Linked DNA regions of Homo sapiens. The protein of the gene in region 1 purifies or fractionates together with the protein of each later gene. This does not show direct contact. Each region holds a gene or a part of one and is shown in the gene's direction. Other genes may lie near its edges.

Region 1 (6,045 bases):
CAGACCTGGGCATCTGTGGTCCCTGAACTCAGGTCTGATATTGACACAGACGTGGGTGCTGCACAGACTCTCATCCACACATTGCACAGGCTCAGGCAGCCCGCCGTGCTCGGTTGCTTGTGGATAGCTGTGGGGTCGCTGGCCCATGCCCAGGCCCGGCTGGGCCCTGGGCTGATGGTTGGGTGGGAATTAGGTGAGGGGCCTGGGGCCTCTTTGGGACCCACCAGGCCCCCCATCCCCCTACTGCCCTTGTCCTTGGGGGGCCACTGTCCCCTCTGACCTCGGGTGTACGGCTGCTTCCTGTATGACCAGAAGGAGACTCTGCCCTTTTGGTTGGTGGTTTTCGAGAGTTACCAAGCGCAGCTGTTTTGCATCCTCTGGGGACCCTGCTCCCTTCTCGTGTCTCAAAGAGCCAGCCTCTGGGGCCACGGGGCTGCCCCGGCCATGAGAGGCTGCTGACGTGGTGTTTGCTGGGCCAGTGCTCAGGGCTTTGGTGCATGTGGGCAGCTGAGGCCTGGGTCAGGGGCACTGCACCTCGGCCCCTCTGCTCATCTTGGGCAGGTGACCCAGGTGGAGCTCAGGCCCGAGGTCTGTGCTGGGCCGTGGGTCCCCTTTTGACCGCCCCCCCGGCTCCGGACCCCAAGCCCCTCCTCGCTGACTGTTCCTCGGTCCCACCCGCAGGCCCCCCAAAGATGGCGGACAAGGTGGTCCCACGGCAGGTGGCCCGGCTGGGCCGCACTGTGCGGCTGCAGTGCCCAGTGGAGGGGGACCCGCCGCCGCTGACCATGTGGACCAAGGATGGCCGCACCATCCACAGCGGCTGGAGCCGCTTCCGCGTGCTGCCGCAGGGGCTGAAGGTGAAGCAGGTGGAGCGGGAGGATGCCGGCGTGTACGTGTGCAAGGCCACCAACGGCTTCGGCAGCCTGAGCGTCAACTACACCCTCGTCGTGCTGGGTTAGTCGCTGCTGCGGTCAGAGGTCATGGGCTGGGTTGGAGCCAGGCAGGGGTGTGCAGGAGGGCGGACGGGGACACACCTGGGGCCCGAGAGTCAGCCAGCCCCCGGCAGAAAGCCTTCCTTCGGTGCCCTGCCCCACCTCAGCTGGCTGCACCTCTGCCACCATCCCCCAGGTATCCTGTCCCGTTCCTGTCCCCGTCAGGCTCCAGCCTCGGAGCCTTCCTCCCAGCGGAGGGCGGAGGGTGGAGGGCGGGAGCCGAAGGCAGTGGTCCCACAGAAGGGCTGGGGCCCGAGGCCTTGGCAGGGTGTGCCGGCCGTCGGCTGTGACTTTGAGGCTCGGGTTTCGGAGTTCAGAGGAGCCGCCGGGATGCGTGGCCTTTCTGTTCTCTTCTGCGCCTGGGGCCCGGGCGCTGGGCTTGGACAGGTGTCCAGAGAGACACGCCCTCCATACCTAGGGACCCGGCACCCCGCCTGCTCCGCTGGGCTCCTGGGTGTGGGGCCCTCGGGTGGAGCTCCTGGGAGCTGGGCTGGCCCGTTTCTTTTTTTTTTTTAATTCTACTTTAAGTTTTAGGGTACATGTGCCCGTTTTCTGAATACAGGAGCCTGGCCCAGGCCCCAGCAGGGTCTGGGGGTGCGGCCTGAGACAGCCTGGTCCTGGGCTCAGTGAAGGAGCGGCTGTCACAGGGTGGATGGAGGGGACATTCCACAGCACGCCCTGCCCCTCGGCATTGTGTGGAATGGGAAAACTGGCTGTCCCCCACCCCCACCCCACAGTCCTTTCAAAGGGGACGATGACCGGGTGGTATGAGAGTCTCGTCTGTTCACCAGCCCTCGGCCCCTTGATGTAGGCTAGGGTTACTGCAGCTGCTGGCCGGGCCCGGCTCCCTCCTCCCCCGGGGCCTGCAGACCCCCCGGAGCCAGAATGGGGGCCGGCCCTCCAGCCCCACCCGTGCCCATCAGGGTCACCTGCGCCCAGTGTGGGCCAGCGGCCCTTGCCCAGCTGTCCCTGGGATTCTGGGCTGTGGGTGTGTGGCGCAGCCCCCTGCCTGGGTGTCCAGGGCTGTCCCGGCTGGGGCTGGGGGAGCTAGAGGCCACGGGGGAGTTGGGGGAGCTCCTCAGGGCCCCCCTCACCTGCCCTCCCTGTGCACCTCCGTCTCTCTGCAGATGACATTAGCCCAGGGAAGGAGAGCCTGGGGCCCGACAGCTCCTCTGGGGGTCAAGAGGACCCCGCCAGCCAGCAGTGGGGTGAGCAGGGGGTGACGGGGGTGGGGGGCGTCCGTCTGTCCCGGCCCCTTGGCTGCATCCCCGTCCTCTGACCTCCACGCCACCCCACCCCGCAGCACGACCGCGCTTCACACAGCCCTCCAAGATGAGGCGCCGGGTGATCGCACGGCCCGTGGGTAGCTCCGTGCGGCTCAAGTGCGTGGCCAGCGGGCACCCTCGGCCCGACATCACGTGGATGAAGGACGACCAGGCCTTGACGCGCCCAGAGGCCGCTGAGCCCAGGAAGAAGAAGTGGACACTGAGCCTGAAGAACCTGCGGCCGGAGGACAGCGGCAAATACACCTGCCGCGTGTCGAACCGCGCGGGCGCCATCAACGCCACCTACAAGGTGGATGTGATCCGTGAGTGTGGCCCCGGGCGCTGGCGGGCGGGGGGTGCTGGTGGGCGGGGGCGCTGGCGGGCGGGGGTGCTGGTGGGCGGGGGCGCTGGTGGGCGGGGGCACTGGCAGGGCTTGGGGGTGGTGGGCTGGGGGTGCTGGTGGGCCCAGGGTGCTGGCGGGGTAGAGTCCGGCGCGGCCCAGGAGCCATGCCCGCGTGCCACGTTCCCACAGAGCGGACCCGTTCCAAGCCCGTGCTCACAGGCACGCACCCCGTGAACACGACGGTGGACTTCGGGGGGACCACGTCCTTCCAGTGCAAGGTGCGCAGCGACGTGAAGCCGGTGATCCAGTGGCTGAAGCGCGTGGAGTACGGCGCCGAGGGCCGCCACAACTCCACCATCGATGTGGGCGGCCAGAAGTTTGTGGTGCTGCCCACGGGTGACGTGTGGTCGCGGCCCGACGGCTCCTACCTCAATAAGCTGCTCATCACCCGTGCCCGCCAGGACGATGCGGGCATGTACATCTGCCTTGGCGCCAACACCATGGGCTACAGCTTCCGCAGCGCCTTCCTCACCGTGCTGCCAGGTGCGCGGCTGCCACGCCACGCCACACCATGCTGGTGCCCGGACCCGCCCCCTGGGCCCGGCGTCCCACCCACCGGGTGGGGCCCCACCCTTCCCTCCCGGGCCGTGCTGGCCAGGTCATCTGCCGAGGGAGGGCAGCCCAGGGGCACCGTCTCCACAGCCCCTGGGATGGGTCTGGGGTGCTCTCCTGGTCTTTGTGTCGGCGTTCCCCTCCCTACCTCCTTTCCTCTCGCTCTTGCAGACCCAAAACCGCCAGGGCCACCTGTGGCCTCCTCGTCCTCGGCCACTAGCCTGCCGTGGCCCGTGGTCATCGGCATCCCAGCCGGCGCTGTCTTCATCCTGGGCACCCTGCTCCTGTGGCTTTGCCAGGCCCAGAAGAAGCCGTGCACCCCCGCGCCTGCCCCTCCCCTGCCTGGGCACCGCCCGCCGGGGACGGCCCGCGACCGCAGCGGAGACAAGGACCTTCCCTCGTTGGCCGCCCTCAGCGCTGGCCCTGGTGTGGGGCTGTGTGAGGAGCATGGGTCTCCGGCAGCCCCCCAGCACTTACTGGGCCCAGGCCCAGTTGCTGGCCCTAAGTTGTACCCCAAACTCTACACAGACATCCACACACACACACACACACACTCTCACACACACTCACACGTGGAGGGCAAGGTCCACCAGCACATCCACTATCAGTGCTAGACGGCACCGTATCTGCAGTGGGCACGGGGGGGCCGGCCAGACAGGCAGACTGGGAGGATGGAGGACGGAGCTGCAGACGAAGGCAGGGGACCCATGGCGAGGAGGAATGGCCAGCACCCCAGGCAGTCTGTGTGTGAGGCATAGCCCCTGGACACACACACACAGACACACACACTGCCTGGATGCATGTATGCACACACATGCGCGCACACGTGCTCCCTGAAGGCACACGTACGCACACACGCACATGCACAGATATGCCGCCTGGGCACACAGATAAGCTGCCCAAATGCACGCACACGCACAGAGACATGCCAGAACATACAAGGACATGCTGCCTGAACATACACACGCACACCCATGCGCAGATGTGCTGCCTGGACACACACACACACACGGATATGCTGTCTGGACGCACACACGTGCAGATATGGTATCCGGACACACACGTGCACAGATATGCTGCCTGGACACACAGATAATGCTGCCTTGACACACACATGCACGGATATTGCCTGGACACACACACACACACGTGTGCACAGATATGCTGTCTGGACACGCACACACATGCAGATATGCTGCCTGGACACACACTTCCAGACACACGTGCACAGGCGCAGATATGCTGCCTGGACACACGCAGATATGCTGTCTAGTCACACACACACGCAGACATGCTGTCCGGACACACACACGCATGCACAGATATGCTGTCCGGACACACACACGCACGCAGATATGCTGCCTGGACACACACACAGATAATGCTGCCTCAACACTCACACACGTGCAGATATTGCCTGGACACACACATGTGCACAGATATGCTGTCTGGACATGCACACACGTGCAGATATGCTGTCCGGATACACACGCACGCACACATGCAGATATGCTGCCTGGGCACACACTTCCGGACACACATGCACACACAGGTGCAGATATGCTGCCTGGACACACGCAGACTGACGTGCTTTTGGGAGGGTGTGCCGTGAAGCCTGCAGTACGTGTGCCGTGAGGCTCATAGTTGATGAGGGACTTTCCCTGCTCCACCGTCACTCCCCCAACTCTGCCCGCCTCTGTCCCCGCCTCAGTCCCCGCCTCCATCCCCGCCTCTGTCCCCTGGCCTTGGCGGCTATTTTTGCCACCTGCCTTGGGTGCCCAGGAGTCCCCTACTGCTGTGGGCTGGGGTTGGGGGCACAGCAGCCCCAAGCCTGAGAGGCTGGAGCCCATGGCTAGTGGCTCATCCCCACTGCATTCTCCCCCTGACACAGAGAAGGGGCCTTGGTATTTATATTTAAGAAATGAAGATAATATTAATAATGATGGAAGGAAGACTGGGTTGCAGGGACTGTGGTCTCTCCTGGGGCCCGGGACCCGCCTGGTCTTTCAGCCATGCTGATGACCACACCCCGTCCAGGCCAGACACCACCCCCCACCCCACTGTCGTGGTGGCCCCAGATCTCTGTAATTTTATGTAGAGTTTGAGCTGAAGCCCCGTATATTTAATTTATTTTGTTAAACATGAAAGTGCATCCTTTCCCTCCAGGCTGGTGTTTCTGCCCATGTCTACATGCACGTGTGCATGCTCGTGTGTGCTCACATTTGTGCCTGTGTGTCAGGCCTGGTCTCCAGAACCAGCAGCCTAACCCTCTTGGAGTCCCCTCGCTGGGCCAGAGCCACAGGGGCTGAGAACTGCACCTCCCGGCGGGAGAGTTTGGGTATACTGGGCTTCGGTGGTGTTGGGCGTGAGCACTGCCCACATGCCTGGCCAGGCCTGCGTCCTGCACCCCTGTCCCAGCGGCGCCCTCTCTGTGTCCTGGGGCTGGCACCTATGGCCCTCAGTGCAGGGCCTGGCCACTCCCCAGCCCCTCCTCAGGCTTTGGTGGGTGGCCCTACAGGAGGCAGCAGACTGGCCTCAGAGCTGGGGATGGGGCCAGGCTCAGGTCACCTCTGACCTCAGGGCTCCGTCCGAGTGCCCTCCCAGCCACCCTGCGGTGCTGCGACGGTGGCCGACCCCATCTTACCCGGTCAGCAGGAGGGGTGGGGCTGCCAGCTCCACCCGGGGCCCTTGCCTGCCGGGGGTTCCGTTAGCCTCGTAAGAAAAGGCACCGGGGCCCCTCGTGCATTCAGCAAAGCGTGAGGCCCACTGCGTCCCCGGAGCCTGGTCCTGCTGGCGTGCAGCGCGCTTCCTGACCCGCTCTGGTTCTGAGAGC
Region 2 (7,272 bases), on another chromosome or scaffold:
TGGGACAGAGTCTGTCACTGTCACCCAGGCTGGTGTGCAGTGGCGTGATCTCCGCTCGCTGCAACCTCTGCCTCCCAGGTTCAAGCAATTTTCCTGCCTAAGCCTCTGGCCGCCACCACACCTGGCTAATTTTTTTTTTTTTTTTTTTTTTTTTGTATTTTTAGTAGAGACAGGGTTTCACCATGTTGGCCAGTCTGGTCTCGAACTCCTGACCTCATGATCCGCCTGCCTCGGCCTCCCAAAGTGCTGGGATTACAGGCGTGAGCCACTGCACCCCACCACATTTTGGACTTTTTTTTTTTTTTTTTGAGACGGAGTCTCGCTCTGTCATCAGGCTACAATGCAGTGGCATGATCTCGGCTCTCTGCAACCTCCACCTCACAGGTTCAAGCGATTCTCCTACCTCAGCCTTCCGAGTAGCTGGTACTACAGGCGTGTGCTACCATGCCCAGCTAATTTTTTATATTTTTTTAGTAGAGACAGGGTTTCACCATGTTGGCCAGGATGGTCTCGATCTCTTGACCTTGTGATCAGCCCGCCTCGGCCTCCCAAAGTGCCGAGATTACAGGCGTGAGCCACCGTGCCCAGCCCACATCTTGGACTCTTAACAAAAATGCTGAAAAACCTGCACTGTGCTTGGCATAGGGCTGTGCTAGAGATTCAAAGATGAATCATGCAGGGTTCCAATCGTCAGCTCACCACCGAGTCCTGGAGTTACGCCACCACAAAGGCAGACAGTCTGGGGAGTAGGGGGTGTTGGCTGCTGACCCAGGACACCCAGCCCAGGATGGGGGCTGGCGCTGGTCCTGGACTGGCAATGAGCAGGTTCATAGGCAGGAAGTGGCGGAGAGCACAAAGTGGTGGCTGGAGACAGGCAGGATGGGGGCTCAAGGAGGTCGTATGCCCTGTTCCCCTAGAGCCCATGTGTGGACTGATCTTGCGGAGATTTTTGGCCCTGGTGTTCTACATACCTGTCTTCCTGTTTCACCAGGGCCCTTGTTTGCTAGTTACTGTCCCCGGCCCATGAGGTGCTGGCCTCCAGCAGAACCTCTCAGCCAGTCTCAGGGGCTTCCTGTGTGTCTCCCTGAGGCCGGCCCTTTTGGCTTCCTTCCCCCAGGGACTGCTGTGCGCCACTGTGATGAGCACAGGGGGTGGCTCCCCCCAAACCTCTTCAACTGCACGTCCATCACCTTCTCAGAACTGAAGGGCTTCGTAAGTGAACCCCCTCATCTCCATCTTTTCCCTGTCCTTCGTCCTGAGTCTCACTTGCCCCCACTCCCATCTTTGAGAACGGGGCTTCTGGAATTCCAGCCTGTGTGTTCCTGGGCTCCCAGCTGGAGAGGCCGTCTCTCACCTCCTGAGGTCCTTTTGCTCCAGAGTTCCTGCCCTCACTCCTGCTCCTCCGCTCCGTCCTGTCTAGGCTGAGCGGCTACAGCGGAATGAGTCAGGCCTAGACTCAGGGCGCTCCCAGCAGCTAGCCCTGCTCCTGCGCAACGCCACGCAGCACACAGCTGGCTACTTCGGCAGCGACGTCAAGGTGGCCTACCAGCTGGCCACGCGGCTGCTGGCCCACGAGAGCACCCAGCGGGGCTTTGGGCTGTCTGCCACACAGGACGTGCACTTCACTGAGGTGGGGCTTGGAGGATGCAGGGCTGGCTGGTTAGATAGGGGTCATGGTGAGTGAGCCTGCTCATGGCAACCTGGGGGGCAGAGGGGGCCCTCCCATCCCACCTACAAGGAGCTCCCTGCTGGCAGGAGGCCTCCATGAAACCCTGTGACCCCTGGCCCAGCCCTCTTCCCAACCCTTCTCATAGTAACATATGTGTGTTGGGGCATGGTCTGACCCAGAGCAGAGGCCTGCCTGTGGTACCATGGGCTGGGAGGAAGCAGTATCTCAGGACATGTGTGTGGGTCCAGGCACAGGGCTGGGAAGCTCTTATGTAGAGAATGAGGAGGAGGGCTTAGGGGCAGAGCATCCAGTGACCTGAGTGGGCAGTGCGGTCCAGGAGCATTTCAGGGGAGGCAACAGTGAGCACAGAGGGAGGGGCCTGGTGGGGAGCAGGGACTGGCCCGGGCACAGGCCGGGGCTCCATGGTGGGGATGTCAGGTGTGGGTTGTGAGCACACCCACCGTGACCTTGCCCACCCCAGAATCTGCTGCGGGTGGGCAGCGCCCTCCTGGACACAGCCAACAAGCGGCACTGGGAGCTGATCCAGCAGACAGAGGGTGGCACCGCCTGGCTGCTCCAGCACTATGAGGCCTACGCCAGTGCCCTGGCCCAGAACATGCGGCACACCTACCTAAGCCCCTTCACCATCGTCACGCCCAACATTGGTAAGGCTGGTGCCTGGGTTGGGGAGGGGTTTGTGGAGGGAGTCCCCGACAAGAGCGGCTGTGCTGGGGTCCTGCCTGCCTCACAGGTCCGATCTGTGACCATCCCCTTCCTTAGTCATCTCCGTAGTGCGCTTGGACAAAGGGAACTTTGCTGGGGCCAAGCTGCCCCGCTACGAGGCCCTGCGTGGGGAGCAGCCCCCGGACCTTGAGACAACAGTCATTCTGCCTGAGTCTGTCTTCAGAGGTCAGTGGTGGCCATGGATTGAGTTGGGAGCTGGACCCCAGTGTCTGTGCAGACTCCACAGAGAGCAGGGCCCAGCTAAGTGTGACAGTGTCCCCTCCCAGAGACGCCCCCCGTGGTCAGGCCCGCAGGCCCCGGAGAGGCCCAGGAGCCAGAGGAGCTGGCACGGCGACAGCGACGGCACCCGGAGCTGAGCCAGGGTGAGGCTGTGGCCAGCGTCATCATCTACCGCACCCTGGCCGGGCTACTGCCTCATAACTATGACCCTGACAAGCGCAGCTTGAGGTCAGCAGCTAGGGGACAGGTGTGGGTAGGGGTATGGGTCGGGCGGTGAGTGCTGAGGCATGGAGGGGGTCGGGGGCGTCTCCCCAGTCATGTGACTGCCGTGGTGACTGTGCACCTGACTGCCCCACATCAGAGTCCCCAAACGCCCGATCATCAACACACCCGTGGTGAGCATCAGCGTCCATGATGATGAGGAGCTTCTGCCCCGGGCCCTGGACAAACCCGTCACGGTGCAGTTCCGCCTGCTGGAGACAGAGGAGCGGACCAAGCCCATCTGTGTCTTCTGGAACCATTCAATCCTGTGAGCCTGCACTGCCCTCGCCCCCTCAGGCTTCGGGCTGAAAGTCCAGGCCCCTGCATGCCTCACCCTCCTTGTCTCCCTGACCCTGCCTTCCTCACACAGGGTCAGTGGCACAGGTGGCTGGTCGGCCAGAGGCTGTGAAGTCGTCTTCCGCAATGAGAGCCACGTCAGCTGCCAGTGCAACCACATGACGAGCTTCGCTGTGCTCATGGACGTTTCTCGGCGGGAGGTCGGGCCCACAGGGGCAGCTGCAGAGCCGTGGGTGGGCACCCAGGGCACGGGGCTGGGTGCTCAGGTCCTGCCCTTCCTAATTCCCTGGCCCCCTGCCACCTACTCTGCAGAATGGGGAGATCCTGCCACTGAAGACACTGACATACGTGGCTCTAGGTGTCACCTTGGCTGCCCTTCTGCTCACCTTCTTCTTCCTCACTCTCTTGCGTATCCTGCGCTCCAACCAACACGGCATCCGACGTAACCTGACAGCTGCCCTGGGCCTGGCTCAGCTGGTCTTCCTCCTGGGAATCAACCAGGCTGACCTCCCTGTAAGATGCTCCTACTGCCCAGAAACTGTCCCCACCTTCTCAGGCCGCCTCCCCAGCCCCCACTGGCAACCCCTGCTCCTGCACCATGAACTCTAATAAGGTGCCTAGTGCAGCACCTGGCCCAGGGTTTCCTCTTCTGTGGCTCCCCCGGGATCCCCCAGCACCTGCCTCTGGCCCAGGCTTCCCTGGAAGCAGTTCCCAACACCCAGGCCCTCCTCCATGCCTGACCCGAAGCAGAGCCTGTGCTCTGGGCGGGCCCCGGTCGCTGACCTGCCCTGGCCTGGGCCCTCAGTTTGCCTGCACAGTCATTGCCATCCTGCTGCACTTCCTGTACCTCTGCACCTTTTCCTGGGCTCTGCTGGAGGCCTTGCACCTGTACCGGGCACTCACTGAGGTGCGCGATGTCAACACCGGCCCCATGCGCTTCTACTACATGCTGGGCTGGGGCGTGCCTGCCTTCATCACAGGTACTCCCACCCATTCCCAGTCTTGGGGTCCCACATCCCTGGGTCCACCTTTGTGCCATGTTCTCTCCACCCACATACAGGCCCTGAGGCCCCACATCCCCATGCCCCAGGCCGCCTTATTCACAGGTGTCCCTCTGGTTTAACCCAGACTCTGCAGCCGCCACCCAGGCGTCACTCCCTTATCCTGGGGAGATCGGTAGGGGCCGATGGTGGGCAGAACCCTTTTCCATGCTTCATGCCTGGCCCTGTGAGCCCACCTGCCCGCAGCCCTACTTCCCAGGCCCCTCATCACCCCTCCACTGCTCCCGTCTGTCTCCATGCTCCAGGGCTAGCCGTGGGCCTGGACCCCGAGGGCTACGGGAACCCTGACTTCTGCTGGCTCTCCATCTATGACACGCTCATCTGGAGTTTTGCTGGCCCGGTGGCCTTTGCCGTCTCGGTGAGTGCTAGCAGGTGGGTTGGGTGTCACCTGTGGCCCTCCTTTGCTGTCCTCCTGCTGCTGGGGCCGCGTGTCCTCAGGACTCCCTTTAGGAACAGCTGAGGCCACGGGGCCCTGTGGGCTGGGTGGAAGCTGTTTGTCCCCACTGAGCACCCCATGCCCTCTGCCCCTGCCTAGATGAGTGTCTTCCTGTACATCCTGGCGGCCCGGGCCTCCTGTGCTGCCCAGCGGCAGGGCTTTGAGAAGAAAGGTCCTGTGTGAGTATAGGGTTGGGGTGCCTGGGCCATGGGCAGGCACCAGCATGGGAGGTCTCATGGCCGGACTCATGGCCTGTCCCTATCCCCAGCTCGGGCCTGCAGCCCTCCTTCGCCGTCCTCCTGCTGCTGAGCGCCACGTGGCTGCTGGCACTGCTCTCTGTCAACAGCGACACCCTCCTCTTCCACTACCTCTTTGCTACCTGCAATTGCATCCAGGTACCTGGCCCAGCCTGTGGAGAAGGGAGGCACCTGGGCTGTGGATGCCTGAATATGCACAGACCGTTGCTGCCTCTTGCCTGCCAGGGCCCCTTCATCTTCCTCTCCTATGTGGTGCTTAGCAAGGAGGTCCGGAAAGCACTCAAGCTTGCCTGCAGCCGCAAGCCCAGCCCTGACCCTGCTCTGACCACCAAGTCCACCCTGACCTCGGTGAGGGAGCCAGGGGTCTCAGGAGGGCGGTGAAGGGAGGGAGAGGCAGGAGGCCCAGTGAGCCTGTACTTTTGGCCCCACTCCCCTTTCTCTTTTCTCCATCCCTTCCTGGAAGGTGGAAGGGGAGGTGAAATGCTGTGTTCGGCCTGGGGAGGAGATGTTGGAAAGGGTGTGTAGGATTTTGACTTGAGGGAGATGGGGCTGAGACAGATAATCAGGTAATAAGTGCCTTGCACCTGAGAATCTCTCATGAATTTTAGTAAATTTTCTGTCTCCCAAGGTGCTCTCAGGAGACAATTTCTGGTCTCATCTTTTACAGAGCCATTATATAGTGAGTCCAGGATCCCTGGGGGCATGCAGGGGTAGCACAGCTGTGGCAGAGCTGTGACCACTGCCAGGCCTCAATATGGGGACAGCGGAGAAGCAGGGCCCTCTCTTTCAGACCTGAGCATGTGGAAGGTGGAACTTAGGGCAAGTTCCCTCCACCCTCCTTCTTCCCAGCCTGGGGCCAGCCATCCCACTCCCCACTTACTGACCTCTCTGTTCCCTGCCTAGTCCTACAACTGCCCCAGCCCCTACGCAGATGGGCGGCTGTACCAGCCCTACGGAGACTCGGCCGGCTCTCTGCACAGCACCAGTCGCTCGGGCAAGAGTCAGCCCAGCTACATCCCCTTCTTGCTGAGGTGAATCCCGGAGATGGGAGGGTGGAGGAGGGGAGGAGGGGCCCACGCATGCTGGACCCAGGCCAGCCAGCTGTTGGGAGTTGAGGAGCACACACTGTGGCTGACGTGGGGGCCAGCTTGGATTAGAAGCTGTAAGGGACCCACAGCAGGAACCAGGATCCCAGGGGAGAGGAGAGACTGGGACCCTGGGCAAGGGGCCAGGCTGACCCCTCCAGCATGGTCTCATCTTCCTAGGGAGGAGTCCGCACTGAACCCTGGCCAAGGGCCCCCTGGCCTGGGGGATCCAGGCAGCCTGTTCCTGGAAGGTCAAGACCAGCAGCATGGTGAGGACAGAACGCTCTGGCCACCCAGCAGGGCAGTTGGCTGGCTTTTACTGAAGGTGGGTGGAGGTGGCTGGGCTGGCTGTGATCTCTCCCTGGCCTCCTAGATCCTGACACGGACTCCGACAGTGACCTGTCCTTAGAAGACGACCAGAGTGGCTCCTATGCCTCTACCCACTCATCAGACAGTGAGGAGGAAGAAGAGGAGGAGGAAGAGGAGGCCGCCTTCCCTGGAGAGCAGGGCTGGGATAGCCTGCTGGGGCCTGGAGCAGAGAGACTGCCCCTGCACAGTACTCCCAAGGGTGGGCCAGCACTGGGGCTGTGGCCTTTGGGGCCAGTGGGAGGACAGTGGGCCTGGGGTTCTTGGGAAGCAGGACTGGGGTGGTGGCCTCCTGGCTATCTGCCCTCTGTGGGCCTCATCTACTTCCTTTCCCCACCAGATGGGGGCCCAGGGCCTGGCAAGGCCCCCTGGCCAGGAGACTTTGGGACCACAGCAAAAGAGAGTAGTGGCAACGGGGCCCCTGAGGAGCGGCTGCGGGAGAATGGAGATGCCCTGTCTCGAGAGGGGTCCCTAGGCCCCCTTCCAGGCTCTTCTGCCCAGCCTCACAAAGGTGAGTGGGGCACCCCCAGCTGCCGAGCTCCCCTAGTCAGCAGCCTCATACCTCACATTCTCCTGTGGCCGCACCTCACAGCCCCGCCCCGGCCCACAGGCATCCTTAAGAAGAAGTGTCTGCCCACCATCAGCGAGAAGAGCAGCCTCCTGCGGCTCCCCCTGGAGCAATGCACAGGGTCTTCCCGGGGCTCCTCCGCTAGTGAGGGCAGCCGGGGAGGCCCCCCTCCCCGCCCACCGCCCCGGCAGAGCCTCCAGGAGCAGCTGAACGGGGTCATGCCCATCGCCATGAGCATCAAGGCAGGCACGGTGGATGAGGACTCGTCAGGCTCCGAGTGAGTGTGGCCGGGTGGGCGGGACGGGGTGC

The links.
Region 2: the proteins of FGFRL1 (region 1) and CELSR2 purify together in Homo sapiens (affinity purification with mass spectrometry; 2 studies listed by BioGRID and IntAct, with this or other methods). This does not show direct contact.

What each region holds. Positions count from the first base shown.
Region 1 is NC_000004.12:1,021,522-1,027,566, forward strand, and holds the end of FGFRL1 (fibroblast growth factor receptor-like 1 precursor), read left to right. Parts: intron 1-681; coding exon 682-954; intron 955-2,119; coding exon 2,120-2,200; intron 2,201-2,295; coding exon 2,296-2,580; intron 2,581-2,789; coding exon 2,790-3,143; intron 3,144-3,383; coding exon 3,384-3,826; 3' UTR 3,827-5,377; downstream 5,378-6,045. UniProt on the Homo sapiens protein: Has a negative effect on cell proliferation.
Region 2 is NC_000001.11:109,266,431-109,273,702, forward strand, and holds part of CELSR2 (cadherin EGF LAG seven-pass G-type receptor 2 precursor), read left to right. Parts: intron 1-1,117; coding exon 1,118-1,212; intron 1,213-1,420; coding exon 1,421-1,630; intron 1,631-2,150; coding exon 2,151-2,334; intron 2,335-2,449; coding exon 2,450-2,578; intron 2,579-2,679; coding exon 2,680-2,860; intron 2,861-2,993; coding exon 2,994-3,161; intron 3,162-3,263; coding exon 3,264-3,390; intron 3,391-3,502; coding exon 3,503-3,703; intron 3,704-3,995; coding exon 3,996-4,170; intron 4,171-4,496; coding exon 4,497-4,609; intron 4,610-4,786; coding exon 4,787-4,866; intron 4,867-4,955; coding exon 4,956-5,082; intron 5,083-5,169; coding exon 5,170-5,292; intron 5,293-5,847; coding exon 5,848-5,975; intron 5,976-6,209; coding exon 6,210-6,298; intron 6,299-6,402; coding exon 6,403-6,597; intron 6,598-6,735; coding exon 6,736-6,906; intron 6,907-7,005; coding exon 7,006-7,240; intron 7,241-7,272. UniProt on the Homo sapiens protein: Receptor that may have an important role in cell/cell signaling during nervous system formation.